Homo sapiens: one gene and its partners. The protein of the gene in region 1 purifies or fractionates together with the protein of each later gene. This does not show direct contact. Each region holds a gene or a part of one and is shown in the gene's direction. Other genes may lie near its edges. The genes, in order: CAPN1, FNTB, CAPNS2 and CAPNS1.

Evidence for each region.
Region 2: the proteins of CAPN1 (region 1) and FNTB purify together in Homo sapiens (affinity purification with mass spectrometry; 3 studies listed by BioGRID). This does not show direct contact.
Region 3: the proteins of CAPN1 (region 1) and CAPNS2 purify together in Homo sapiens (affinity purification with mass spectrometry; 4 studies listed by BioGRID and IntAct, with this or other methods). This does not show direct contact.
Region 4: the proteins of CAPN1 (region 1) and CAPNS1 purify together in Homo sapiens (co-immunoprecipitation; 5 studies listed by BioGRID and IntAct, with this or other methods). This does not show direct contact.

The regions. Positions count from the first base shown.
Region 1 is NC_000011.10:65,205,897-65,212,511, forward strand, and holds the end of CAPN1 (calpain-1 catalytic subunit), read left to right. Parts: intron 1-566; coding exon 567-778; intron 779-883; coding exon 884-923; intron 924-2,158; coding exon 2,159-2,224; intron 2,225-2,308; coding exon 2,309-2,366; intron 2,367-3,426; coding exon 3,427-3,491; intron 3,492-3,952; coding exon 3,953-4,021; intron 4,022-4,121; coding exon 4,122-4,200; intron 4,201-4,439; coding exon 4,440-4,556; intron 4,557-4,917; coding exon 4,918-4,976; intron 4,977-5,363; coding exon 5,364-5,390; 3' UTR 5,391-6,110; downstream 6,111-6,615. UniProt on the Homo sapiens protein: Calcium-regulated non-lysosomal thiol-protease which catalyzes limited proteolysis of substrates involved in cytoskeletal remodeling and signal transduction. Proteolytically cleaves CTBP1 at 'Asn-375', 'Gly-387' and 'His-409'.
Region 2 is NC_000014.9:64,981,878-64,989,903, forward strand, and holds the start of FNTB (protein farnesyltransferase subunit beta), read left to right. Parts: upstream 1-5,017; 5' UTR 5,018-5,076; coding exon 5,077-5,220; exon of another isoform or gene 5,221-5,236; intron 5,237-8,026. UniProt on the Homo sapiens protein: Essential subunit of the farnesyltransferase complex. Catalyzes the transfer of a farnesyl moiety from farnesyl diphosphate to a cysteine at the fourth position from the C-terminus of several proteins having the C-terminal sequence Cys-aliphatic-aliphatic-X.
Region 3 is NC_000016.10:55,562,481-55,568,187, forward strand, and holds CAPNS2 (calpain small subunit 2), read left to right. Parts: upstream 1-4,203; 5' UTR 4,204-4,276; coding exon 4,277-5,023; 3' UTR 5,024-5,207; downstream 5,208-5,707. UniProt on the Homo sapiens protein: Calcium-regulated non-lysosomal thiol-protease which catalyzes limited proteolysis of substrates involved in cytoskeletal remodeling and signal transduction.
Region 4 is NC_000019.10:36,143,057-36,150,092, forward strand, and holds part of CAPNS1 (calpain small subunit 1), read left to right. Parts: intron 1-7; coding exon 8-72; intron 73-2,749; coding exon 2,750-2,818; intron 2,819-2,919; coding exon 2,920-2,998; intron 2,999-3,139; coding exon 3,140-3,256; intron 3,257-6,521; coding exon 6,522-6,580; coding exon of another isoform or gene 6,581-6,756; coding exon 6,757-6,783; 3' UTR 6,784-7,036. UniProt on the Homo sapiens protein: Regulatory subunit of the calcium-regulated non-lysosomal thiol-protease which catalyzes limited proteolysis of substrates involved in cytoskeletal remodeling and signal transduction. Essential for embryonic development.

The DNA.
Region 1 (6,615 bases):
GGTCAGCACAGGTAGTCAGTGAGGGAGCTGGATTTGAGCCCTGGTCCTCAGAGCCCCTGTCTGACATGTACACATGAGGCTTTTCCTGCCTTGCCATCTACACCAAGTAAGTGCCAACTAGGGCGGTCCAGCAATGTCAGGAGCAGGGCATTAGACAGGCTGAGAGTTCTGTACCCTTGAGCAGTTGCTTAAGCTCCGAGCCTGTGTTTGTGTCTGTAAAATGGGTGTAACAGCAGAACAGCAAATGAGGTGCCGAGTACCCTGCAGTACCTGACCTGGGGAAAGCTCCCAGTGATAATAATGACAGTGTTATTGAAACACATGCCTAATCTGCAATCCGGTGCTCCTCTCCTCTACCCTCTGCAGTGAGTAGGGTTGTTACATTTTACAGATGAGGAAACTGAGGCAAAATGTCTTGTTAGGGTCACACAGGCTGTGAGTGAGCCATGCCCCAGCTCTCCAGCCCCTTGGCCAGGACAAGGAGCCTGGAGTCTGGGTCTGGGGGTGGCCCCTGAGGGTGGGCTGAGTGGGCAGCTGCAGCCCTGCTCCCTCCTCCCTCCCACCAGCTGGTGGGCCAGCCGGCCGTACACTTGAAGCGTGACTTCTTCCTGGCCAATGCGTCTCGGGCGCGCTCAGAGCAGTTCATCAACCTGCGAGAGGTCAGCACCCGCTTCCGCCTGCCACCCGGGGAGTATGTGGTGGTGCCCTCCACCTTCGAGCCCAACAAGGAGGGCGACTTCGTGCTGCGCTTCTTCTCAGAGAAGAGTGCTGGGACTGTGTGAGTCATGGACTGGCCCCTGCCACTCTCCCCTCTCCCAGCCTCCCCTCTCAGGCCCTCTGCTGTCCCCCTCTGACTGGCTCCTTTCCTCCCCACTCTCTGCAGGGAGCTGGATGACCAGATCCAGGCCAATCTCCCCGATGAGGTGCGTGGTCCCACCCCACCAGGCCCCGTCCTCCTCTCTTCCTCACCCCTGGGTGTGTGATGGGGACCCAGGTGTCCTGTCCCCTGAGTTCCTGCTAACAGGGAAGATCCCCTCCTGGTGGAAGCCATAGGAGTAGTGCTAATCCCTCATCCGCCCAGCACTTTACAGTTTGCAGAGGACCTGTGATACTAATGGCACAGGCCCTGAGCTCTCACCCGGTGGCGGGTTTGTGCTGAGCACTTCACCTGTGTTACCTCATTTCCTCCCCACATCAACCCTGTCCGGGTCTTGTTACCATACCTCCTCTGAATGGGAAATTCAGGTTCACAGAGGTTAGGGAACTTGCCTGAGGCCATACAGTAGGGATCCAAACTCTTGCCTTTTTTTTTTTTTTTTTTTTGAGAGAGTCTCACTCTGTCACCCAGGCTGGAGTGCAATGGCGTGATCTCGGCTCACTGCAACCTCCGTCTCCTGGGTTCAGGTGATTCTCCTGCCTCAGCCTCCTGAGTAGCTGGGATTACAGGCGCACGTTACCACACCTGGCTAATTTTTGTATTTTTAGTAGAGACGGGGTTTTGCCATTTTGGTCAGGCTGGTTTCAAACTCCTGACTTCAAGTGATCCACCCACCTCGGCCTCACAAAGTGCTAGGATTACAGGTGTGAGCCACCGCACCTGGCCCAAACTCTTGCCTTTTACTCACTGAGCTGAACAGCATCCCCTTCATTTAGGTCACATGAGTGCTGGATATGGGGCGGGGCAGGGCAGGGCAGGAACGAGATTCCCTTTTCAGATTAGAAAAGTGAGACTCAAGCCGGGCTCAGTGGCTCACGCCTGTAATCCTAGCACTTTGGGAGGTTGAGGCGGGCGGATAACCTGAGGTCGGGAGTTTGAGACCAGCCTGGCCAACATGGCAAAACCCCGTCTCTACTAAAAATACAAAAATTAGCCGGGCATGGTGGTGGGCACCTTTAATCCCAGCTACTCAGGAGGCTGAGGCAGGGAGAATGGCTTGAGCCCGGGAGGCGGAGGTTGCAGTGAGCTGAGATCACGCCACTGTACTCCAGCCTGGGTGACAGAGTGAAACTCCATCTCAAAAAGAAAAGAAAAGAAAAGTGAGGCTCAGAGAAGCGAAGTGACTTGTAGCAGATATGTGACCTCAGCCCTCCCTCCAGCTGCCTCCACACGGGCAGGGCCGGGGCCTCTCTTACCTGCTTTCTCCCCTTCTCGGTCCAGCAAGTGCTCTCAGAAGAGGAGATTGACGAGAACTTCAAGGCCCTCTTCAGGCAGCTGGCAGGGGAGGTAGGTTGGGGCATGGCAGGTTGGGAGGGGCCTGTGAGGGGCAGCCCTCTCCTGGGGCAGGTGCCACCTCCTCTCTCTCCCCAGGACATGGAGATCAGCGTGAAGGAGTTGCGGACAATCCTCAATAGGATCATCAGCAAACGTGAGTCCCCGCGGGGCTGTCCCACCACCCCACCATTTCTTCCACATCAGAATCCAGGCTCCTGCTCACACATTGAGCTGAACCTCATCCCTTGGTCTGCATGAGTCGGGGAATCCTCCAGTTTTTCTGAGCCCAGTTCCCTGCCATTTCCATCCCATACTCCTCCTCCTGACCTGCCATCCTGATAATCCCTGTGCTCGGGTGCTGTGCCTTTGTGGGATTAGCAGCGCAGCCTGGCCAGGCACAGTGGCTCACACCTGTAGTCCCAACACTCTGGGAGGCCGAGGCAGGAGTCGCTTCAGCCCAGGAGTTCAACACCAGCCTGGACAATATGGAGAGACCCTGTCTCTGCAAAAAAGTACAAAAATTAGCTGGGCGTGGTGGCATGCACCTATAGTCCCAGCTACTCAGGAGGCTGAGTTGGGAGGATGGCTTGAGACCAGGGAGGTTAAGGCTGCAGTGAGCTGTGATCACATCAGTGCACTCCAGCCTGGGCAACAGAGCAAGACCCTGTCTCAAAAAAAAAAGCAGGAGCAGCACCTTAGTGCCAAAGAAAAGTCTACCTTTCCTCCCAGAGCCTCCTGGGCCAGGCTGAGTGGCTTGGGGAACACCACGTGACTGGCTTCACTCCCCAGGGCAGACAACTGCTGGCCTCTCATCCCCTCCCCTCCCCTTTGCTGCCACTGACCTCCATCCACACGGTTTCCTTAAGCAGAGCTTTTCTCCTCCTCTTCTCTGCTAGTGAAGCACTGCTTACCCTCCTAGCCTACAGCAAGCCCTGCCCTGCCCCATCTTTCTACCCAATTTCTCGCTCTTCTGTTTCACACTCATTTCTTTTTACTTTGGACTAATTGTGGCTGTTGGGACTTTGGCTTGATTGCTAAAATACTTTACTTGTACTTCCTGATGATACAAACAATCCTGCCCACTTCCTCTGCCAGATATTGCACCCACTCGTCAGGATTTGTGCGTCCTTGACTCTGCCCCACCCAGTGCTCCCAGCAGGGGCAGGTGCAGGAAGCTCACTAGGTGGAGATGTTGGAATTGGTTTTTCTTGCAGACAAAGACCTGCGGACCAAGGGCTTCAGCCTAGAGTCGTGCCGCAGCATGGTGAACCTCATGGATGTATCCTTCCGTTTGCTTTTGTCTCCTGAGTGGGGTTTTGGGTGGAGGTATCGGTGCTGGGAGAACTGTCCCAGGACAGCACAGAGAACAGGACAGAGCCATGCGGAGTGTGGACACACAGTGCCCCATGCTCAGATGTCTCCCTGGACGTCTTCCTGTTGGTTGGGAGGGAGAAACTGAGGCACAGACCTGTGTCAAGTGAAAGGTGGAGCAAGACCTGGGTCCCCATTGACCCTGAGGCTGGTGCTATTTCTGACCCCTCCCCAGCCCACTCCACTGCAGCCCAGCTCAGAGAATAAGGCAAGCCCGGCTGTGGGCTGACTGTACATGGCTTTTGCTGCTTCTCCTCACCCAGCCCCAAGTCGACTTGCCGGCTCGGCGGCCATCTCCCCTTCTGCACAGTTGCCCACTCTCCCATGACTGGTCTAAGTGATGGAATTTCCTTCTTAACGGCCACCCAGCGTGATGGCAATGGGAAGCTGGGCCTGGTGGAGTTCAACATCCTGTGGAACCGCATCCGGAATTACCTGGTAGGTTGTCCCCACTCACCTCAGTCATGCAGGTGCGGGCCGGGCAGGTGGGAAGGGCCGGGTGACTCAGCCTGGCCCTCACCCTCTGCCGCCACCTCAGTCCATCTTCCGGAAGTTTGACCTGGACAAGTCGGGCAGCATGAGTGCCTACGAGATGCGGATGGCCATTGAGTCGGCAGGTGAGACTCCAAGGCTGACGGCACCTGTGGGGCCCAGGACAGGTAGCCCCACTGCTCCTATGCCCCAGGCCCTTGTCCCTGGGGTGCTAGTGGTGACATGGTAACAGCCATCTTGTCCTTTTCCCCACGGTTACTAGCACCCTGCCTAGCCCCAGCCCCCTCCTGGGGACCCAACCCCTCCCCCATCCTGTTGGGCAGGGGCTGCGCCTCACTGACCTTCACTCACTCTCCTGGACCAGGCTTCAAGCTCAACAAGAAGCTGTACGAGCTCATCATCACCCGCTACTCGGAGCCCGACCTGGCGGTCGACTTTGACAATTTCGTTTGCTGCCTGGTGCGGCTAGAGACCATGTTCCGTGAGTGTCCCCAACTGCCTCCCACCCTCCAGCTCCGTCCCAAACGCGTCCCCCAGGAGCTGGGGGGAATGACAGATGGGTGAATTAGCAGATACAGGCCAGTGCTGTGGGTGTGTGCCAGAGAGGCCTGGGTCTGGGTTTGGGGGGCCCTGGCTGAGTGCCAGGAGAGTCGGGGAGGGAGGGAGTTGACAGTGGCTTCTCAGGCAGCAGGAAGGGGTGAAGCTTCCCAGCTTCAAGGGGTGTCAGCTTGCGGTACTGTGGGGAGGTAGAGAGGGACCAGGCAGGAAGGGGGCCAGGCCTGGCCCTGCGTGAATATCCCACTGAGTTTTCAGCCCTGTATCACCTTTTCTTGAACACACAGGATTTTTCAAAACTCTGGACACAGATCTGGATGGAGTTGTGACCTTTGACTTGTTTAAGGTGGGAACCTCCCTGGGCCCATGGTTGGGGAAGAGTTCCAGGCGATCGAATTTTCTTATCTGGCCAGTGTTCCCTGTCCTTTCCTGGAAATGAGCCTGGGCCTCAGAGCCAACCCTGAAGCCCGGGCCACCTGAATCCTGAAAGGCTGGGGTGGGGGTGTCTGGATTCTGGGAAAGGAGCAGGAGGGGAGGTCCAGGCCCTTGGAGGCCCCTATGGGAGCAGCACTCTGGTTTCCCAGGGGTGGAGGAGGTAAGAAAGTAACCCCTCCATGAGGTTCCTGAGGTGGCTCCTGAGACGTGGAGTTGGGGGCTGGACCTGGGGTTTGGGTGGGGAAGAAGCCAGGGAGCCATTTCTGCGGCCCCAGCTGACCTGCCTGTTCTCCCGCAGTGGTTGCAGCTGACCATGTTTGCATGAGGCAGGGACTCGGTCCCCCTTGCCGTGCTCCCCTCCCTCCTCGTCTGCCAAGCCTCGCCTCCTACCACACCACACCAGGCCACCCCAGCTGCAAGTGCCTTCCTTGGAGCAGAGAGGCAGCCTCGTCCTCCTGTCCCCTCTCCTCCCAGCCACCATCGTTCATCTGCTCCGGGCAGAACTGTGTGGCCCCTGCCTGTGCCAGCCATGGGCTCGGGATGGACTCCCTGGGCCCCACCCATTGCCAAGCCAGGAAGGCAGCTTTCGCTTGTTCCTGCCTCGGGACAGCCCCGGGTTTCCCCAGCATCCTGATGTGTCCCCTCTCCCCACTTCAGAGGCCACCCACTCAGCACCACCGGCCTGGCCTTGCCTGCAGACTATAAACTATAACCACTAGCTCGACACAGTCTGCAGTCCAGGCGTGTGGAGCCGCCTCCCGGCTCGGGGAGGCCCCGGGGCTGGGAACGCCTGTGCCTTCCTGCGCCGAAGCCAACGCCCCCTCTGTCCTTCCCTGGCCCTGCTGCCGACCAGGAGCTGCCCAGCCTGTGGGCGGTCGGCCTTCCCTCCTTCGCTCCTTTTTTATATTAGTGATTTTAAAGGGGACTCTTCAGGGACTTGTGTACTGGTTATGGGGGTGCCAGAGGCACTAGGCTTGGGGTGGGGAGGTCCCGTGTTCCATATAGAGGAACCCCAAATAATAAAAGGCCCCACATCTGTCTGTGATGTGTTTCTCCCCAGCCTACTGCCTGGAGGGCACCTGCAGGCCCCGGCCCATGGGGGCAGCTCGTGGCCTCAGCTCACCCCTCCCCTCCAACCCCTCCATCTCCTTCCCCTTGACCTTGAAGCTTGAACCCCTACTGGAGTACTGGGTATCTGGGCAAGACCACCCCTGGCCCTGGGAGGTTGGGAAGGAGGGGCCCTAGCTGCAGGGACAGGGCCACACAGCTGAGGTCCCACATGGCTCTGCTGATCCTACATGCCCTCCCCGCCGCCCAGGAGGCCTGACCCCTACCTTTCTTGCACACTTCGGCCCGTTGAGGTGAGGCTCTGGCTGAAATTCAAACCTCTACTTAGCACACACCCGGCCCCCCAGAGAGCTCCCCCGAGCACAGAGCCGCCTTCAGGTCCCTCTGTGGGGAGCCCCTGTGACCCAGACACCTGCACTTACATAAGCCGCTCCAGGGCCTGCTGGGATCTGGGATTTTCTTACCAGAGATAAGAGTGGTTT
Region 2 (8,026 bases), on another chromosome or scaffold:
CTTACATTTTTAAAAGTTCAGTCTGGCTTTTTCATTTTGTCTTGGATCTTTGAGGCTGCTAGAACAGAATCCCATACACTGGGTACCTTGTCAACAACAGAAATAAAGTCCAACATCAAGGCACCTGCAGATTCGGTGTCTGGTGAGGGCCTGCTTCCTGGCTCATAGGTGATGCCTTCTCTATGTGTCCTTATATGGCAGAAGGAGTGAGGGAGCTCTGTGGGGTCTCTTTTATAAGGACATGAATCCCATTTATGGCAGCTCGGCCCTCATGACCCAAACACCTACCAAAGGCTCCACCTTCAAACACCTTCATATTGGGGATTAGGTTTCAACATATGACTACTGGGGGCACCTAAACATTCAGTCTATAGCAAGTTTGTATTAGGGTACAGGGGGACAAGAGTGAAAAGAGGGAGAACAGTTAAGAGATTAGTGTAAGAATCCAAGTAACAGATGATGGTGGCTTGGACCAGGACACTGGCAGTGGGATTGGTAAGCAGTGATCAGATGCTAGATATATTTAGAACAGAACTTACAAGGAGTGAGAAAAAGAGAGGCAGCAAGAATGATTCCAAGGTATTTGGAGTAACTGGAAGGATGGAGTTATCATAATAGAGATCGGGGAGACTGAGTGCACAAGTTTGGAAGGGAAGACCAGCAGCTCTGTTGTGGATATGTTAAGTTTGAGATGCCTATTGGAGATCTAAGTGGAAATGCAAATAGACATTAGACATGAACTCTGGAGTTCAGGAGAGATCCAGGTTGGAGATACAAATTAGGGAGTTTTCAACCTATAAGTGTTATTTAAAACATTGAGACTGCCTGAGCTGACAGGGAAGTTAGTGCAGACAGATAAGAAGTCTGAGGACTGAATCCTGGGGTACCCCAAGCTAAGGTATCCAAGATATTAGAAAGGCAAGGAAGGAGGAAAACCAGTGTGAGGCACCACAAGGACAATGTGTTTCAAGAAGGGAAATGATCAACTGTGCAAATATTGCTGGGAAGTCAAGAAGGAAGACTTGAGATCAGGACTGAGACCTGGCCCTTGGATTTGGCGATATGGAATTTAATGGAGAGTTGATAAGAAACGATTGGAAAACCTGATTAGAATGGGCTTGAGAGAGTTGGAAGAGAGGACCTGGAGACGTTAGTAGTAGCAAATCTTTCAAGGGTCTCCGCCAATGAGTCATCGGGAGGTAGCTGGAGAAGGAGTGGAATCAAGAGGGTTAGAGATGCACCCCCCCCCACCCCCTCATAGCCAGGCGCGGTGGCTCATGCCTGTAATCCCAGGACTTTGGGAGGCCGAGGCGGGCGGATCACGAGGTCAGGAGATCGAGACCATCCTGGCTAACACGGTGAAACACCGTCTCTACTAAAAAAAAAAAAAAAAAAAAAAAAATTAGCCGGGCGTGGTGGCGGGCGCCTGTAGTCCCAGCTACTTGGGAGGCTGAGGCAGGAGAATGGCGTGAAACCGGGAGGTGGAGGTTGCAGTGAGCCGAGATCGCGCCACTGCACTCCAGCCTGGGCGACAGAGCGAGACTCTGTCTCAAAAAAAAAAAAAAAAAAAAAGCCCCTCACCCTCCACGCTGCCAAGAATGAGAAAATGGCATGCTTGAGGGAGATCTGGATGATCAAGTAGAGGAAAAATTTGGTGTTTTAGGAAAGGAAAGGGAGAATTGCGACAGTCTTTGGGGGGTGGCGCGTGAGGGGAGGGAGATGACCTGGTCCTAGGTAGGAGATGGGGCAGTCATTCCATCTAGGGGAATAGGAGGGACAGGACCGCCGAGTAGGAGGGCACAGATGATGGTGGGCAGTAAACTTGGGGAGGAAGTTAATTACCTAGCGGGATAATAGATGAGTTCTTTCCATTTTCCAAATGTTCCAATATGTATTACTACACAGTTTCACAAGATATTAAAGGAAACAATTCATTCCGACATACGGCTTGTATGAGTGAAAACAGGGAGAACGGTGAGAGCAGTTTTAAAACTTACTCCCTAAACGCACTCCAGGGTCGGAAGCGACCTCTAGGGGTTCATTTAGACCATTACTTTTTTCTTTTTCTTGCTCTTAAAAGTATAAAACAGCACGGTCCACATTTAATATTATTTTTAAAGAAACACGATCAGTTTAATTTAGAAAAGAGTATCAGGCATGTGAGTAAAATAAACATAAACCATCTGCAGTCCAAGCTGGAGTTGCTATTATCATGACTAAGAGTTTTCTCTCTAAATATATCATTCTCTATAGCACCATTAATATTTATGTTCATTCTGCTTCTTGAATGAGTGGTTTTATTAAACCAAGAGGAGGGACAACTAGTGGGCTATTTGATCCAGGTCTTCTTGATGCTTACATGGAGTACAAACCCCACATATTTTTCATTGCTGGTTTCACTTGATTTGGTGTTGTCACTGGGTTTCCTCTGCCTGGGATGTTCTCATCCCCTGGATTAATTAACTCACTTCCTCATGGGAGTCTTTCCAGACCTTCCAGGCTACCTTAGGGTCCCCCCATCATGCAAGCTCACACACTCCATGCTTCTTTCTGCCTCATCCCATTTCTCCCAACTGTCATGAAAGAGTCAATTCTGTCATTACTGTTTAATGTTTTTTCTGGTAAGTCATGAGACCCATAATGGCAGAGACTGTGTCTGGCTTGTTCACTGCTGTCTCCTTAGCACTTAGCTCAGTGCCCAGCACTTACCCTGTACTCAATAAACATTAATTGAATGAGAACACACTATCCTGCCGGAGACTCTTGCCCATGTTCCTATTCACATCTTTTGGATCCCACTGCAGAGGAGACTGAATTTCAGAGATGAATTTTTATTTCTAAAATACAGTTTGCAATTGCTTTAGGTGCATCTGTGACAGATGCAACAATTTGTCACAAAACTGTCCCAGCTATTCTTTCAATAGCACAGTCTTCAGGATTGAAGCGTTAAGTTTCCAGCTCTCCTGCAAAGAAACTCTTTGTGACAAAGGCTGAATCCTTAGATATAACCCTGACCTTATCAGACCATTTATTTCCCAAAATATAACTAAGGGAAAGACAGTAAGATGCCAATACAGGGGGCAGTATAATGAGACCATTTCACATTGTGCAGCCTTATCCATGGGTCCTAACCCATACTGTCCCCTTATTTCCAGATTTGGTAATATTCTGGTGCCTCTAGGTCTTAGTTCAGCAACAGTACCACTAAAATGGACATGGTGGTAGTATTTATCCACCTGAGGTCTTTAGGCCAGCCCAGCCTCATCTTTGAAATTTTTGTGAGTGCTTCTATTTACTACCAGAGACTGAGAACAGGGGAATGGCTGGTTGTCAAATGTCACTCTGGTCTATAATCCCTGGATCCTAGACATGTGACATGGAATGGAGTGGGAACAGAGTGAAGTGCTCTGAGCAGGAAGTAAAGCTTGTCTCCAAGTGTACCCGGAATGTCTGTTATCATACCTTCTATAATCTCCTACATACAACTCCCCCAGTTTAATCTCTTGGTATTATAATTTTTGGTGTAGTACTTTTGATGCATGCCCTAAAATAAATTCTCTTCTATTGCTTGTCCAAAGGTAGCAGCGTTTTCCTAAAAATCACAACTTTAAACTTGGTTGTTCTGGAGGCAAGTGTGATGAGTAAGTCCACTCCATAAGAATCAATAAGAATTTCTTTTATTCTAGCTGGGCGTGGTGGTGAGCATCTGTAGTTCCAGATACTCAGGAGGCTGAGGCAGGAGGGTCACTTGAGCCTATGGTTTTTGTTTGTTTTTTTGTTTTGCTTTTTTTTTTTTTTTGAAACAGGGTCTCGCTCTGCCACCCAGGCTGGAGTGCAGTGGCACAATCATAGCTCACTGCAGCCTCGACTTCTTGGGCTCAAGAGATCCTCCCACCTTAGCCTGTCGAGCAGCTGGGACTACAGGCATGCGCCACCACGCCCGGCTAATTTTTTTGATATTTAATAGAGATGAGGTCTTGCTATGTTGCCCAGGATGTTCTAACTCCTCAAGTGATCCTCCTGCCTCAGCCTCCCAAAGTGCTGGGGTTACAGGCGTGAGCCACCGTGCCCAGCACATGTCTTCTAAAAGCTGCTGTTTCTTCCTTTTTCAGGAGTTCTTTCCCATACTGTTCTTCTGGATGACTCCTCGTCATCCTTCGGATCTCAAATGAAAGGTCATTTAGAGAGGCTTGGCCTGACCATACAATTCAATTAGTTTCTTACCCCTTTAGTCTCTCTCATAGACCCTGTTATTTTCCTTCATCTCATTTATCACAAGTCTTCATATATTTATTGCGTTGGATACATTCAATTCTGTCGATTTTCTTAGAATGTAAGGTTTCCAAGGGAAGGGACTTCGTTTTGTTCACTTTTGTATTCCTAGAACCTAGCACAATGCCTGACACATAGCAGGTGTTCCATAAATATCTGCGGACTGACTGTCTATTTCACTTATCCTTGTTCCTTGTACTGCATTTCAGTTCTCGCTACTGCAGTGTAACCTCCAAGAGACAGGAGAAAATCATAATACCCCCCTCCCTCCATCACTGAGTGATACTGAGACGGCGTCCTTGCACGTTTGAGCAGCTGCTGCCTTCTCCTGGGAGGCTGTCAAGTACCCCAAGGTGCACAATAATTCTTTTAGTAATTGCCTGACTGAGGCAAATCAGTAGAGCTGTCAGAAATGCTTTCAAACTTAACATTCATTGGGTTCTTGGGCACCTGAAATTGCAAACAATTGCATTACAATTAAGTGAGAATTAGCAGAATGTTACAGTTCTTTAACAATTTGCGTAACAAACCGAGGCGTCCTACGCCATCTCGCTGAAATGAAATTCGGATGTAGACACCCTTGCGCTTCAGGACTCTACGCTCTTGCAGCAGCTCCTCTGCCCAATGGGGGGCGGCAGCATCTCAGTAACTCACTCGAAAGACGGGTAGGCGGGAGGAGACATTCGCGTTCAAAATCTTTTTGCCTCTATCCGCTCGCCGTAGCGCTTTAGCCCGCTCGAGTTTCAATGCGCGTTGTTGCTTAACGAAGCAGAGTCCTACACACTGTCTGCTGCTCTCCTGATCATGGCTTCTCCGAGTTCTTTCACCTACTATTGCCCTCCATCTTCCTCCCCCGTCTGGTCAGAGCCGCTGTACAGTCTGAGGCCCGAGCACGCGCGAGAGCGGTTGCAGGACGACTCGGTGGAAACAGTCACGTCCATAGAACAGGTGAGGTGGCAGGACTGGGCGAGGCGCCCGCGCGATGTGTTCTGGGAGCGCGAGTCCCGTTCGTAGGGCCGCCCGGGTGCGGAACTCACCGGGGAACTACGACTCCCACAGCGCACCGCGGTGCCTTTCCTCTGGGAAGCTCCGGGCGCCCAGGCTTGGGCTTCGTCGTGGAGCGTTTGCGCGGCCAGCTTGGGGAAGGGTCGTTTCAAGGTTGGGCTTGGAGGAGAGGGCAGTAGCCGAGTCCCCTCTGCCCTAAAGAACGAGAAGAATCGTGTTCTATGCCTGGAGGACAGAGGCAGCCCGTGCGGGTCGGACAGCCCACTCTGTTCTGCCAGTACTTCGGGAGGTTCTGGGGTGCATAGTGCACTTTTCCCAACCTGCCCTCAGCTTCTGGAGGCAGAGAGCAGGGCCAGGCTGCTGTCATGCCGTTTCACGATCTGTTTAATTTTTGACCTACAGTGCCAGGTTTGGGGGCCCGCCTCGTGGGTGGGCATTTTGGTAGTCATTCAGCCATTTGAGCACCAGCTACGTGTCGGACACAATATTAAACGATGGAAGTACAAGGAAATAAAACAGCTCCTGACCAGGAGCCTGGTTGGGGGACAGGCAGGAAAACAGTTTGGAAAGTGATCTAATAGAAAGAATGGATTTTGGACTACTAATCATTCCCTAAGGCCTAGAAGTAGGATCGAACCTATCATTTTGAAAAGTGTTTGGCGAATGAGTATATATTCATATGCCCAAAACCATAGTTTTGTTTTTCTTCTTATTCCCTAATTGGAATTGTTCCCAAGGTTGCTATGTGGAACTGTTTATCCATCTGTCCCTAGGAGAAGTGGTTAGGATAATTCTTAACACTAATAAATGAACATTCTGCTGCTTACTGAAATAAGATCTCTTAGTGAGATCAGTCTCCAGGCTTTACCTTGGAGAGACCTGTTTTGTATTTCCTACTTTAAGTTGGAAGCCTGTACTTTGGCAAAATTAGTAACAATAATTGTTTTATTGTACAGTTATGACTAAATAGAATTATAAATTTATAACAGAAACAAGGGCTTGATACGTGGTTATTCACAAAGTAGCAGAGAAAATATTTTAACTGGAGATTTAAACTTCATGGAATTTAGGGTAGCAAAGGAAATCCTCACCTCTCGAATCTAGCTAATTCTCCAGGTTGGTTTGCCTACCAGTGTGTCCCAGGGAAGGCTGACTGCAAAAGATTGTAAAGAAATTTCCCATTGATGAAAAACCTACAGGATCTTTGCAGAATTCCTAAATGATGGATTGCTGAGTTGATTCAGGTCAAGTGTTTTACTTATTATCTGACCTTAGACTATGGGATTGCCTTTTTTTTTTTTTTTTTTTTTGAGATGGGGTCTCGCCCTGTTGCCAGGCTGGGATGCACTGGCTTACTGCACCCTCCGCCTCCCGGGTTCACGCCATTCGCCTGCCTCAGCCTCCAGAGTAGCTGAGACTACAGGCGCCCACCACCACGCCTGGCTAATTTTTGTATTTTAGTAGAGACAGGTTTCACCATGTGGCCAGGCTGGTTTTGAACTCCTGACCTCCAGTGATCTGCCCTCCTCGGCCTCCTAGAGTGCTGGGATTACAGTCGTGAGCCACTGCTCCTGGTGCGAGTATCTTTCAAATCTAGACCCAACGGTATGGCAGACAGTAAAGAATCTTATATTTCTTTTTCATGTTGTTATTCCAGCACACATTATTAGAGTCTAGGATGAACAGTTTCAGGTAGTAGGATGATAATGTTGTATCTCATTTTTGTGGCCTTCCTCACTGTTTTAATAATCATGTTAGTGACCATTTATTGAGTCTCAGCACAGTGCTAAATGCTCTCCATATGTGGTATCATTCAATCCTTTCACTTTTTATGGATGAGAAGACTGAGGTTTAGAGACCTACCACATTGGTAGGTTAATGATACATTCATCAAAAGTAACAACCTTGTTAGGAGGAGTTGTTTACAGAGGATATACTAGTACTCTTTCAGTTTTAACTAAAGCTTCCATTTACTGATAGCTCAATTTTGTGCCATTGCCAGTAAAAACAAATTGATGGCTGACACCTGTAATCCCAGCACTTTGGGAGTTCGAGGCGGGAAGATCACCTGAGCCCAAGAGACCAACTTGGGCAACATAGCAAGACCCTGTCTCTACCAAAAAAAAAAAAAAAAAAAAAAGTAGCTGAGCGTGGTGGCATGCACCTGTAGTCCCAGCTACTTGGGAAGCTGAGGTGGGTGAATTGTTTTTGAGCTCAGAAGTTCACAGATGAGCCATGATCGAGCCACGGTACTCTAGCCTGGGCAACAGAGTAAAACCCTGTCTCTTAAAACAAAAAACGACTATACTGATTTTGGTACTGGCCTGGGCAACATAGCAAGACCCTGTGTCTATTTAAGATGAAAGCTTTTCAAATTAAAAAAAAAAACAAACAAAAAATAAATGCTTGTTACCTGCTTCCTATCTGATTATCAGAAGACTCGGTTTATTTGTTAAGCAATAATTTGGTAATAGGAGTTAAACCTATAAATAGTGGAAGGAGTCCTTAGCTGTGAGTCGTCTGTTCCATTCGTTGATTCTCATTCATTCAGCAAATACTTGAGCGCCTTCTACGTGCCAGGCACTGTTCTAGACACTCGGCATAAGTTGTTAAACAAAAGAGGCCAAGTTGATGCCTTTATGAAACTGTTTCTAGGCCAATGAGGCAGTCAATTAAAAGAGTTAATATCTATAGCTATCTCAATATAAAATGTTAATTAGAAACGCTGTGGAGAGTAACACCTTGGGAT
Region 3 (5,707 bases), on another chromosome or scaffold:
CCTTATCTAAAATACATTTGTATCTTTCAGAGGAATTCAATGAAACCTAAATACTAAAACATATATATACAAATATAATAGATTAGTATTGATAGTAGAAATGTGAACACAGACTTCATATTATAATTATACCAGTTTCCTGTAGTTCTACTTGATTTTTGAGCACAGCCATCCTGCTTTATTCACCTTTGTAACCTAAGTACTGAGCCCAAGTCCTGATACATAATAAATCAGATTGAATCATTTGAAGTAAGCAAGGGCGATATTATTATTATCATTTTGTAGATTCGAAATTGAGACCCCCAAATGCTAAGTAATATAATGACTTAATCATTAAGTCCTAGCTACTTTTCCCCAAGTTCCCCAGTAGAACTTCCAATAACCTCTGGAGGACCTGTACTCTGACTATAACTAGTATTAAAGGTAGGATTTCTCAAAGTATTATCCAGGCTACCTGTTACAGACTGACTTCTGAAGATGCTTATTAAAAATATAAAATCAAATCTCAAAAATATACTGTTGAGGGGGGAAAAAGCTAGACACATAAAACCAGAAATGAAAGAGAAGACATTGCTACCAATTTTACAGAAATAAAAAGGATGATGAGTGAGTACTACGAACAACTGTATGCCAACAGATTGCATAAGCTAGATGAAATTGTCAAATTCCTACACAACCTACCAAGACTGAATCATGAAGAAGTAAAACATATGAATAGACCTATAACTAGCAAAGATATTGAATCAGTAACCAAAAACCTCCCAACAAAGAAAAGCCCAGGACCAGTTGGCTTCACTGGAAAATTCCACCAAACATTGAAAGAAGTACTAACACCAGTTCTTTTCAAACTCTTCCAAATAATTAAAGAAGAGGGAATACTTTCTGATTCATTCCATGAGGCCAAAGTCAGATAAAAACACTTGGAGAGAAGAAAACTACAGACCAATATGCCATATGAACATGGATGCAAAAATCAACAAAATACTAGCAAACACAATTCAACAGCACACTAAAAGTATTATACACCATGATCAAGTGGGATTTATTCCTGGAATGCAAGATGGTTCAATATATGAAAATCAATTAATGTAACACAGCATATTCTCAGAATGAAGGGGAAAAATCACATGATCATCTTAACAGATGCAGAAAATGCATTTGACAAAATTCAGTACTCTTCCCTGATAAAATCACACAACAAACTAGAAGGAAAGTGCCCCAACATAATAAACACCATATATGAAAAGTTGATAGCTAACATTGTGTTCAGTGATGAAAAGACTGAAAGCTTTTCCTCTAAGATCAGGAATAAGACTAGGATGCCCACTCTCATGCTTCTACTAACATGGTATTGGAAATCATCGCGAGAACAGTTAGGCAAGAAAAAGAAATAAGAGGCATATGAAATAGAAAGGAAGAAGTAAAATTATCTCTGTTAACAAATGATATGATCTTATTTGTAGAAAACCCTAAAGATTACCCCTCACACATACAAAACACAGAACTAATTAAGGGACTTAGCAATGTTACAGGATATGAATCAACACACAAAAATCAGTTGCATTTTATACACCAACAATGAACAATTCTGAAAAGGAAACTAAGAAAACAATTCCATTACAATGGCATAGAAAAAATTAAAATACTTAGGAATAGACTTCAAGAAGGAAGCTAAAGACTTGTACACTGAAAACTACAAAGCACTGCTGAAAGAAATTGAAGAAGAGACAAATAAATGGAAAGATATTCCATGTTTATGGATTAGAAGACAATATTAAGAGTCAGTACTTCCCACAGTGATCTACAGATTTAAAGCAATCCTTTTCAAAGTCCCAATGTTTCTTTACAAAAATAGAACAATCAATCCTAAAATTCATAGGGAATTTCAAGGGACACTGAATAGCCAAAACAATCTTGAAAAAGAATAGCAAAGTTGAAAGCCTGACATTTCCTCATTTCAAACCTTACTTCAAACCTACAGTAATCAAAACAGTGCAGCACTGGTTTCAAGAAAGACATATAAGCCAATGGAATAGAATAGAGATCCCAGAAGAAACCCTTGTGTATATGGTCATATGATTTTCAGCAAGAATGCCAAAACCATTCAATGGGGAAAGGACGGTCTTTTCAACAAATAGTGCTGGGAAAATTATATATCCACATGCAAAAGAATGAAGTTGGACCCTTAACTTACACATATACAAAAGTTAACTCAAAATGGATCAAAGATCTAAACATAAGAGCTGAAACTATAAAACTCTTCAGTGAAAACAGAGGAAAAGCTTCATGACACTGGATTTCTCAATGATTTCTTGAATATTACGCCAAAAGCACAGGCAGCCAAAGAAAAATAGATAAATATGACCACATACAAATTTTAAACTTTTGTGCATCAAAGGACACTAACAACAGAGTGGAAAGGTAACCTACAGAATGAAAGAAAATATTTACAAATTATATATCTGATAAGGGATTAATATCTAGAATATTTAAAGAACTCCTGCAACTCAACAACAAGAAACCCAACAAATAACCAGATTTTAAAATGGCCAAAAGATTTAAATAGACATTTTTCCAAAGATCTTCTTTGGTCAGTAAGTATTAATACATTAAAAGATGCTCAACATCATTAATCATTAGGGTAATGCAAATCAAAACTACAATGTTATACCACTTTACAGCCATTAGGATGGCTATTATTAGAAAACAAAACAAAAGAGAAAATAACAAGTGTTTGCAAGCATATGGAGTAATTGGAACTCTTGTGTATTGCTGGTGGGGATGTAAGTGGTACAGTCAATAAGGAAAAGCGTATGGTAGTTCCTTAAAAAGATAAAAATAGAATTATCATATGATTCAGCAATTCCACTTCTTGGTATATACCCAAAAGAATTGAAAGCAAAGACTCAAACAAATATTTGTATACCCATGTTCATAGCAGCATTATTCCCAATAGCCAAAAGGGCAACCCAAGTATTCACCAATGGGATAATGGAAAAACAAAATGAGTATATTAATGCAATACAATATTATTCATCATTAGAAAGGAAGGGAATTCTGACACATGATACAACATGGATGAATCTTGAAGAAATTATGCTCATTGAAATAAGCAAGTCACAAAAGAACAAATACTGTATGATTCCACTTATATAAGGCATGCAGAGTAGTCAAATCATAGAGCTAGAAAATAGAGAGATGGTTACCAGGGGTGGGGGAAGGGGAGAATGGGAGTTATTCTTTAATGGGTACAGTTTCAGTTTTGCCAGATGAAAAAAGTTCTGAAGATAGCTGGTGGTGATGGTTTCACAATGCAAATATACTTAATGCCACTGAACTCTATACTTAAAAATGGTTAAAATAGTATATTTTATGGCATGTGTATTTTATCACAATTTTAAAACATTTAACATTTTTATAATGAAAAAGGAATAAATGAAAGAGTCTGTACTGTCTGATTTAATTTATTTAAGGTGCAAAAATAAATCTATGGTGTTAGATGTCAGGACAGTGGTTATCCTTGGAAGACGGAAGTAACTAGAAAGAAGTATGAAGAGGCCTCTGAGATGTGTGCAGTCTGTGAAATTCTTTGAGCTATCCATTTGTGATTTATATGATACATTTTTTACATGAATGTTACATTTCAAAAAAGATTTTAGCAATGTCGATCACAGACACCACAGCAGCCCTATGGAATCAGAATCTCTGGGAGTGGAAATTCAGGACCTTGCATTTTAAAAATCTCCCTTCTAAATTTTTCTTAAGACTACTGGATTTTGAGAATCTTTGCTAAAGGAAGAGGATTAAATATTCTTCCAATGCCCAAGATTTCTTCAATTCTATTCTAACAATAAATATTTCTTAGAGAATAAATTTTTGATTTCCTTGCATCATTTACCTTTTTCCTGTTAGGAAAATGCACATCATTTTTTAGGTGCTGAGACAGAGGACTAAGAAATCAATGACATAAAAATGCATACTTTAATATTTTTTCTTTAAAACTATTATCCTAAGGTGTCCTACATACTATAATTTATAAGTATCTGGAAGAGTGAAAACAATTTTATTGAGGCCTTGTAAAATATGGCAGGTGCTAGGACCTCATGGAACTCAGGTATCTTCAGTAGGATGTGAAACATCACATCATGGGGCGTGGTGCAGTGTAAGCAGGTAAAGAAAAGCCAGTTCTTCCACATGTAAACTACTTGAACTCCATTTCATCTTTTTTCATACCATCTCTAAGATTGCTGCCGCATTTGCTTGTTAAACTGAAAGCATGTTTCTTGCAAAGGCTCTATTGGAAGGAGCAGATCGAGGTCTTGGAGAAGCTCTTGGAGGCCTCTTTGGAGGAGGTGGTCAGAGAAGAGAAGGAGGAGGAAGAAATATTGGAGGGATAGTTGGAGGAATTGTGAATTTTATCAGTGAGGCTGCAGCAGCTCAGTATACTCCAGAACCGCCTCCCACTCAGCAGCATTTCACCAGTGTGGAGGCCTCAGAAAGTGAGGAAGTTAGGCGATTTCGGCAACAATTTACACAGCTGGCTGGACCAGACATGGAGGTGGGTGCCACTGATCTGATGAATATTCTCAACAAAGTCCTTTCTAAGCACAAAGATCTTAAGACTGACGGTTTTAGTCTTGACACCTGCCGGAGCATTGTGTCTGTCATGGACAGTGACACGACTGGTAAGCTGGGCTTTGAAGAATTTAAGTATCTGTGGAACAACATCAAGAAATGGCAGTGTGTTTATAAGCAGTATGACAGGGACCATTCTGGGTCTCTGGGAAGTTCTCAGCTGCGGGGAGCTCTGCAGGCCGCAGGCTTCCAGCTAAATGAACAACTTTACCAAATGATTGTCCGCCGGTATGCTAATGAAGATGGAGATATGGATTTTAACAATTTCATCAGCTGCTTGGTCCGCCTGGATGCCATGTTTCGTGCCTTCAAGTCTCTGGATAGAGATAGAGATGGCCTGATTCAAGTGTCTATCAAAGAATGGCTGCAGTTGACCATGTATTCCTGAAGTGGGAACTGAGAAGTCAAGATCCTCCCTGGAGGACAGGACTGAAAACCTTGCCAAGCTGTACACAGTTGCTGATACCCTGTGCAACAGCTCTCATTTCCTGGCAAGCTCTTTCACAACCCTACATATTTCTGATCATGTGCTGCCTTTTACTGCTGAATTAAAACAGATATTTCACGAAAAATGTTCTGAGTGGTTTGTATATCAGCTTTTTGAGATTTGGATTTATATGGACTTGCATATATATGGTGGGGAGGTTGTGGGGTAGAGTTCTAATGGAGTAGATTTTAAAAGGTGTTGCTTATTTAGTGAATAAATTCCAAGGAGTAGGAACTTTATTATTGTTGTTATTGTTGTTAAGAATGAATTTTTTTAATCCTAGAATAAATCAAGAAAGCCCTCAGGAGATACATTTTCCATTTTAAAAAGTTGAGGAGAGAGGTTCAAAATCTGTTTTTCTTGTAATTTTATACCTGGTTTTCCCATTATGTAAAAAAATGAAAAGTGCTTTTTAGGAAACTTATTTAACCATAAAGAAACAGGTTCAGACAATGAAATTAAGCAGTTTTATATAAGGGTAGCATTTTTTTAAATGATGGAGCTACTATCTAAAATTCTAAAGTTCTTTAATTCTGTTTCTTTAGTAAAAAAAAGCACTAGCAATTTTGTTTTGATACATTTGTA
Region 4 (7,036 bases), on another chromosome or scaffold:
CCCACAGACCCTGATCTGAAGACTGATGGTTTTGGCATTGACACATGTCGCAGCATGGTGGCCGTGATGGATGTATCCTTGGGGGCAGTGTGGGAGAGGCCCTGGGTGGACAGAGAGTTTTTTGAGAGTATGTTTGGGAAGCCAACATGTAGCTTTCATATCCACAGATGTGGAAATGCATTCATCAGAACACAGTCACCTGCAGACATGTGGCGGTAAATCATAACAATGCCAGCTGTCACAGCTGGCACTTTAATTATATAAAGTGACCGAACCGTCATAACCACCCTGTTGGACAGGCACAATTATTATATTCCATTTTACAGAAGAGGAAACTGAGGCTCAGTTTCCTGAAAGAAGCAGTCATTTGTCTCAAGTTATAGATAAAGGTCAGGCATGGTGGCTCATGCCTGTAATCCCAACACTTTGGGAGGCTAAGGTGGGCAGATCACCTGAGGTCAGGAGTTTGAGACCAGCCTGGCCAACATGGTGAAACCCCATCTCTATTAAAAATACAAAAATTGGCCAGGCACGGTGGCTCACACCTGTAATCCCAGCACTTTGGGAGGCCGAGGCGGGCGGATCACGAGATCAGGAGATTGAGACCATCCTGGCTAACACAGTGAAACCCTGTCTCTACCAAAAAAAAAAAAAAAATTAGCCGGGCGTAGTGGCGGGCGCCTGTAGTCCCAGCTATTCGGGAGGCTGAAGCAGGAGAATGGCGTGAACCCGAGAGGAGGAGCTTGCAGTGAGCCGAGATCGCGCCACTGCACTCCAGCCTGGGCGACAGAGCCAGACTCTGTCTCAAAAAATAAAATAAAAATAAAAATAAAAATAGGCCGGGCGCCGTGGCTCACGCCTGTAATCCCAGCACTTTGGGAGGCCGAGGCGGGCGGATCACGAGGTCAGGAGATCGAGACCATCCTGGCTAACACGGTGAAACCCTGTCTCTACTAAAAATACAAAAAAATTAGCCGGGTGCAGTGGTGAGCGCCTGTAGTCCCAGCTACTCGGGAGGCTGAGGCAGGAGAATGGCGTGAACCTGGGAGGCGGAGCTTTGCAGTGAGCCGAGATCGCGCCACTGCACTCCAGCCTAGGCGACAGAGAGAGACTCCGTCTCAAAAAAAAAAAAAAAGAAAAAAAAAGAAAAATAACAATAACAAAAATTAGCTGGGCGTGGTGGTGCACGCCTGTAGTCCCAGCTACTCGGGAGTCCCAGCTACTCAAGCAGGAGAATTGCTTGAACCCGGGAGGCGGAGGTTGCAGTGAGCAGAGGTTTCGTCACTGCACTCCAGTCTGTGGACTCAGGTCTTTTGGGCTTGAGAACCCACGTTTATAACAGCCACATGCGCATATACACACACACACACCTAAGAGCACACCCACATACGTGAAGGTGTATGAGGCAGTGTGCACAGGGACACACGTGTTATCTGTACATGGGCCAGCCATTAGCTGATCTTGGATACATGCATATTTTTATTTATTTTTGTTTTAAAAAATATTTTATAGAGAAAAGCTTTCACTATATTGACCTGGCAAGTCTCAAACTCCAGACCTTAAGCAATCCTTCCGCCTTGGCCTCCCAAAGTGTTGGGATTACAAGCTTGAGACACTGCGCCTGGCCTCATGCACATTTAACACATAGGGCAAACAGACACATACATAATATACATGTCATGTAATCACAGACATATTGCATAGAGCAAAGCAATCCCAACTCTACCTCTTAACCAGGTTATTGAACCGCTCTGTGCCTCAGTTTCTCTCTCTGTAAAATGGGTGAGTGATAATGGTGATACCGAATCGGAACTACATCCAAAAGGTTTAGCACAGTGTATAGCGCATAGTATGTGGTCTGTACACATTAGCTCTTAACTATGATCTTGGGTAGAGTTTTCAGCTTTGAATGTTTTCTTCTCTGGAAATAGTCCTGGTAGAACTGGTGTCCCAAGGATTTAGTGAGAAAGTGATGTTCCTGAGTGGACATCAGGTGGATCCTGAGTTCAAGCGATCCACCTGCCTTGGCTTCCCAAAGTGCTGGGATTACAGGCATGAACCACCATGCCTGGTCACACACTTGTTTTTCACATATCCTAACATTTTTATGAAATTGAGTTACTGTCAAGAATTTTCTTTTCTTTCTCTTTTTTTTTTTTTTTTTTTGAGACAGAGTCTCACTCTGTTTCCCAGGCTGAAGTGCGGTGGTGCCATCTTGGCTCACTGCTAACTCCACCTCCTAGGTTCAAGCAGTTCTCCTCCCTCAGCCTCCTGAATAGCTGGGATTACAGGTGTGCGCTACTACAGCTGGCCAATTTTTGTATTTTTAGTAGAGACGGGATTTCATCATGTTGGCCAGGCTGGTCTCGAACTCCTGACCTCAAGTGAACCGCCTGCTTCGGCCTCCCAAAGTGCTGGATTGCAGGCGGGAGCCACCGTGCGTGGCCTATTAAGAATTTTCTGAATGAGCAATTAACAACTCTTCAGGCAAGGAATTTGTACTTTAGAGTAGTTGAATATAATTCCTCATGGTTATGTTTAAAGAGAATCCCTATTTAGAAATGTAAGTGACAATATGTATGGATAAAATGAAAAATAAAACCGCACACCAGGTGATATGACTAGGACCAAGCGGGAGCTGGAGTTTCAGCCCTGGCTGCCCTGCTTGCTGTATCACCATCGTGTCCACAGTGCATGTGATGCATGCATCTGGGTGTAGCTGTCACTCTTCTTAACACCCTCCCACCAGAGCGACACCACAGGCAAGCTGGGCTTTGAGGAATTCAAGTACTTGTGGAACAACATCAAAAGGTGGCAGGTGTGTAGAAACCTCTGAAATCCCTGGCACCCAGACCCCCAAGCCATGGAGACACTATGCCCCACAATGCTCACTTGGACCCAATGTCTCTGTCCTCACAGGCCATATACAAACAGTTCGACACTGACCGATCAGGGACCATTTGCAGTAGTGAACTCCCAGGTGCCTTTGAGGCAGCAGGTATGGCTGGCAGGGACATGCTGGGGCTGGGAGTGGGATGGGTGAGAAAACCTCTACTCAGCTGGTCTGGGCCTGACTCCTGGGCATGGGAGTGGGTTGGGCCATGTGGCCCCCGCACCTGAAGGACTACATCCATCTTAGGGTTCCACCTGAATGAGCATCTCTATAACATGATCATCCGACGCTACTCAGATGAAAGTGGGAACATGGATTTTGACAACTTCATCAGCTGCTTGGTCAGGCTGGACGCCATGTTCCGTGAGTGACAACCCAGCTGTCTTCCTGGGTGGGGATTCCTATGACCTCTATGGACCAAGGTCTCCTCTAAGCCTGACTTTGAGGTGGGCGATGCTAGGGGCACAGTGGTGATTGAATCAGTTCCAGTTTCTGCCCTCATGGAGCTCACAGTCTGGTGGAGGAGACACAAGTCCCCAGACAGTGACAGTTCAGACTGGTGATGGCTGGGAGAGGGGAAGCTCAGGGCAGAGTGATGGGTTGTGATGGGGGCAGCACAGGCCGAGGGTCTAGGGCTCTGGTGAGGGGAAGAGTGAGCAGAGCGTGCTCAGATTGTGCTTGGGGAAGCCTAGAGGGCAAATCCAATCCAGGAGGAACCTGATGCAGCCCAAGGGGTCAGGGAGGGCTCACTGGAGAGGGAACATTGAGACCTGAGGGGATGAGGAGAGAACTTAGTGAGAAGGTAGGGAATACTGTTGCAGGCTGAGGGAACAGCCTGTGCAAAGGCCTAGAAGGGAAAGAAGATGGGGCTTCTGATGCTTTTTGTTAGATTTCTTTCTTTCTATTTTTTTGAGACAGAGTCTGCTGCTCTTGTTGCCCAGGCTGGAGTGCAGTGGCATGATCATGGCTGACTGCAGCCTCAACTCCTAGGCTCCAGCAGTCCTCCTGCCTCAGCTTACCGAATACCTGGGAGTACAGGCACACACCGCCATGCCTGGCTAATTTTTAAAATTTTTTGTAGAGACAGGGTCTTGCTATGTTGCCCAGGCTGGTCTTGAACTCCTGGGCTCCAGCAATCCTCCTACCTCAGCCTCCCAAAGCTTTGGTGTTACAGGCATGAGCCATTGCATGTGGCCTTCTGAGTGTTAGTGTACTGAATGCTGAAGACATGGCTGGGAAGTGGGGATTACTGTCCTTATTTTGTGAAGGAGGAACTTAGGATTCAAGGAGGCAAATTTTCATGCTCATAGTCACCCAGCTAGGAAGTTGTAAAGCCAGAATTTGAACTTGGATCTATCTGAGATCTGAGCTAAGTAAGAGAAGGTAGGAGCAGTGAGCATGATTAGGTCATGCAGGATTGTGGGTGCCAAGTTTGGGGGTGCTCAAACTCTACCAGAGACATTGGGGAGCCATGGCAGGTTCTAGGCAGAGGGAGGACAGGGTCAGGTTTGGCTTTAGAAAGATCCCTTGGCCTCGGCTGGGCACGGTGGCTCACGCCTGTAATCCCAGCACTTTGGGAGGCCGAGGAGGGCGGATCACGAGGTCAGGAGTTCGAGACCATCCTGGCTAACACAGTGAAACCCCATCTCTACTAAAAATACAAAAAATTAGCCAGGTGTGGTGGCGGGCGCCTGTAGTCCCAGCTACTTGGGAGGCTGAGGCGGGAGAATGGCATGAACCCAGGAGGCGGAGCTTGCAGTGAGCTGAGATCTGCCACTGCACTCCAGCCTGGGTGACAGATCGAGACTCCGTCTTAAAAAAAAAAAATCCCTTGGCCTCCAGGCCGGGTGCAGTGGCTTATGCCTGTAATCCCAGCACTCTGGGAGGCTGAGGTGGGCGTAAAACCTGAGGTCAGGAGTTCAAGACCAGCCTGGCCAACATGGCGAAACCCCGCATCTACTAACGATACAAAAGTTAGCCAGGCGTGGGGGCGTGTCTGTAGTCCCAGCTACTCAGGAGGTTTAGGGAGGGAGAATTGCTTGAACCCAGGAAGCGGAGGTTGCAGTGAGCAGAGGTCATGCCATTGCACTCCAGCCTCCAACCTGGGTGACAAGAGCGAGATTCCATCTCAAAAAAAAAAAAAGAAAAAAAGATCCCTTGGCCTCCAGAGAGCCCACAATGCATGAAAAGTAACAGAGGAAAAGAAGCAGGTATGTGAGATAGCAGGGAGGTGAAGGGAGTGGACAGACAAGGTTGATGCCACAAGTCACATAAGAGGGGCCAGGAAATAGCCACTGGATCTACCAGCAAGAAGGCTGATAGTCGGGAGGATCATTTGAGTCCAGGAGTTTGAGACCAGCCTGGGCAATGTAGTAGGACTCCATCTCTACAAAAAAAAAAAAATATATGTATATAGACATAGCCGGGCATGGTGGCACATGCCTGTGGTCTCAGTTGCTCGGGAGGCTGAGGTAGGAGAATCACTTGAGCCCGGGAGGGTGAGGCTGCAGTGAGCTATGATCTTGCCACTGGACTCCAGCCTGGGCCACAGAGACACCGTCTAAAAAAAAAAAAAAAAGGGCTGGGCATGGTGGCTCACTCCTGTAATCCCAGCACTTTGGGAGGCCGAGGTGGGCGGATCACCTGATGTCAGGAGTTTGAGACCAGCCTGGCCAACATAGTGAAACCCCGTCTCTACTAAAAATACAAAAAAATTAGCCAGGCGTGGTGGTGCACGCCTGTAGTCCCAGCTACTCAGGAGGCTGAGGCAGGAGAATCACTTGAACCTGGGAGGCAAAGGTTGCAGTGAGCCAAGATCGTGCCACTGCACTCCAGCCTGGGCAACAGAGTGGGACTCTGTCTCAAAAAAAAAAAGAAAGAAAGGCAGCCAGGGTGTGCAGGACGCTGTGGGTATGGACACCTGAGGGTGGTGGTAACTGAGCGGAGATAGTGTAGTCATCATGTCTAGATTCCCTGTGGGTGGGGAACATGGAGTCAAGTTTCAGGGCAGGCGTGGGGACCTACCTGTAAGACTCTAGGGGCAGGAAGTAGAGTGTGCAGAGCCTCCCTCTAGTAGCCTGTTAGGCTTAGAACTGGAGAGGATGGAGCATAGATGTCAGTAGGAGGCTGGGGCTGGGCAGAGGTGATATCAGTACACAGAGGCCATTATTGAGGAGGGTAACAGATTGGATTCCAATCCTGATTTCTTCACTTTCTTGCTATGTGACCTGGGGCATGGCCCCTCCCTTCCTGCCTCATTTCTTTTTTTCCTGTTTTTAATTTTTAGTTTTTTTAAAAAGCAGAGATGAGGTCTCTGTTGCCCAGGTTGGTCTCGAACTCCTGGGCGGCTCAAGTGATCCTCCCATCTTGGCCTTCCAAAGTGTTGGGATTATAGGTGTGAGCCACCACGCCCAGCCTGTGCCTCATTTTAAAATGACACTTATCTCACAGAGTTGGATTAAATCAGCCAATACCTGGAAAGCACTTTACCCCATGCTTGGCACACAGTAAATACTCAGTGAAGTGCCAGCTGCTATGATTGTCATCCCATGTATTTGTGTAATGTTATTATGCCAAAAACCAGTCTCCTTCCTTCCCTGCCGCCAAACCTCTGCATCTCCTCCTCCAGGTGCCTTCAAATCTCTTGACAAAGATGGCACTGGACAAATCCAGGTGAACATCCAGGAGGTAAGGACCCCCATATTGGGGTATGGGTGCCTGGGAGGACCCCACCCCTCAGCCCTTCATACCAGCTCTGAGCTGCAGTCCCCTTCCTCCTATTTTGCCAGCCGTCCCTGGGTGAGGGCAAAGGGGCTGGTGCTCTTGGGGTTCCCTGTCCTCACTCTCCACCCTCCTCTCCCCAGTGGCTGCAGCTGACTATGTATTCCTGAACTGGAGCCCCAGACCCGCCCCCTCACTGCCTTGCTATAGGAGTCACCTGGAGCCTCGGTCTCTCCCAGGGCCGATCCTGTCTGCAGTCACATCTTTGTGGGGCCTGCTGACCCACAAGCTTTTGTTCTCTCAGTACTTGTTACCCAGCTTCTCAACATCCAGGGCCCAATTTGCCCTGCCTGGAGTTCCCCCTGGCTCTAGGACACTCTAACAAGCTCTGTCCACGGGTCTCCCCATTCCCACCAGGCCCTG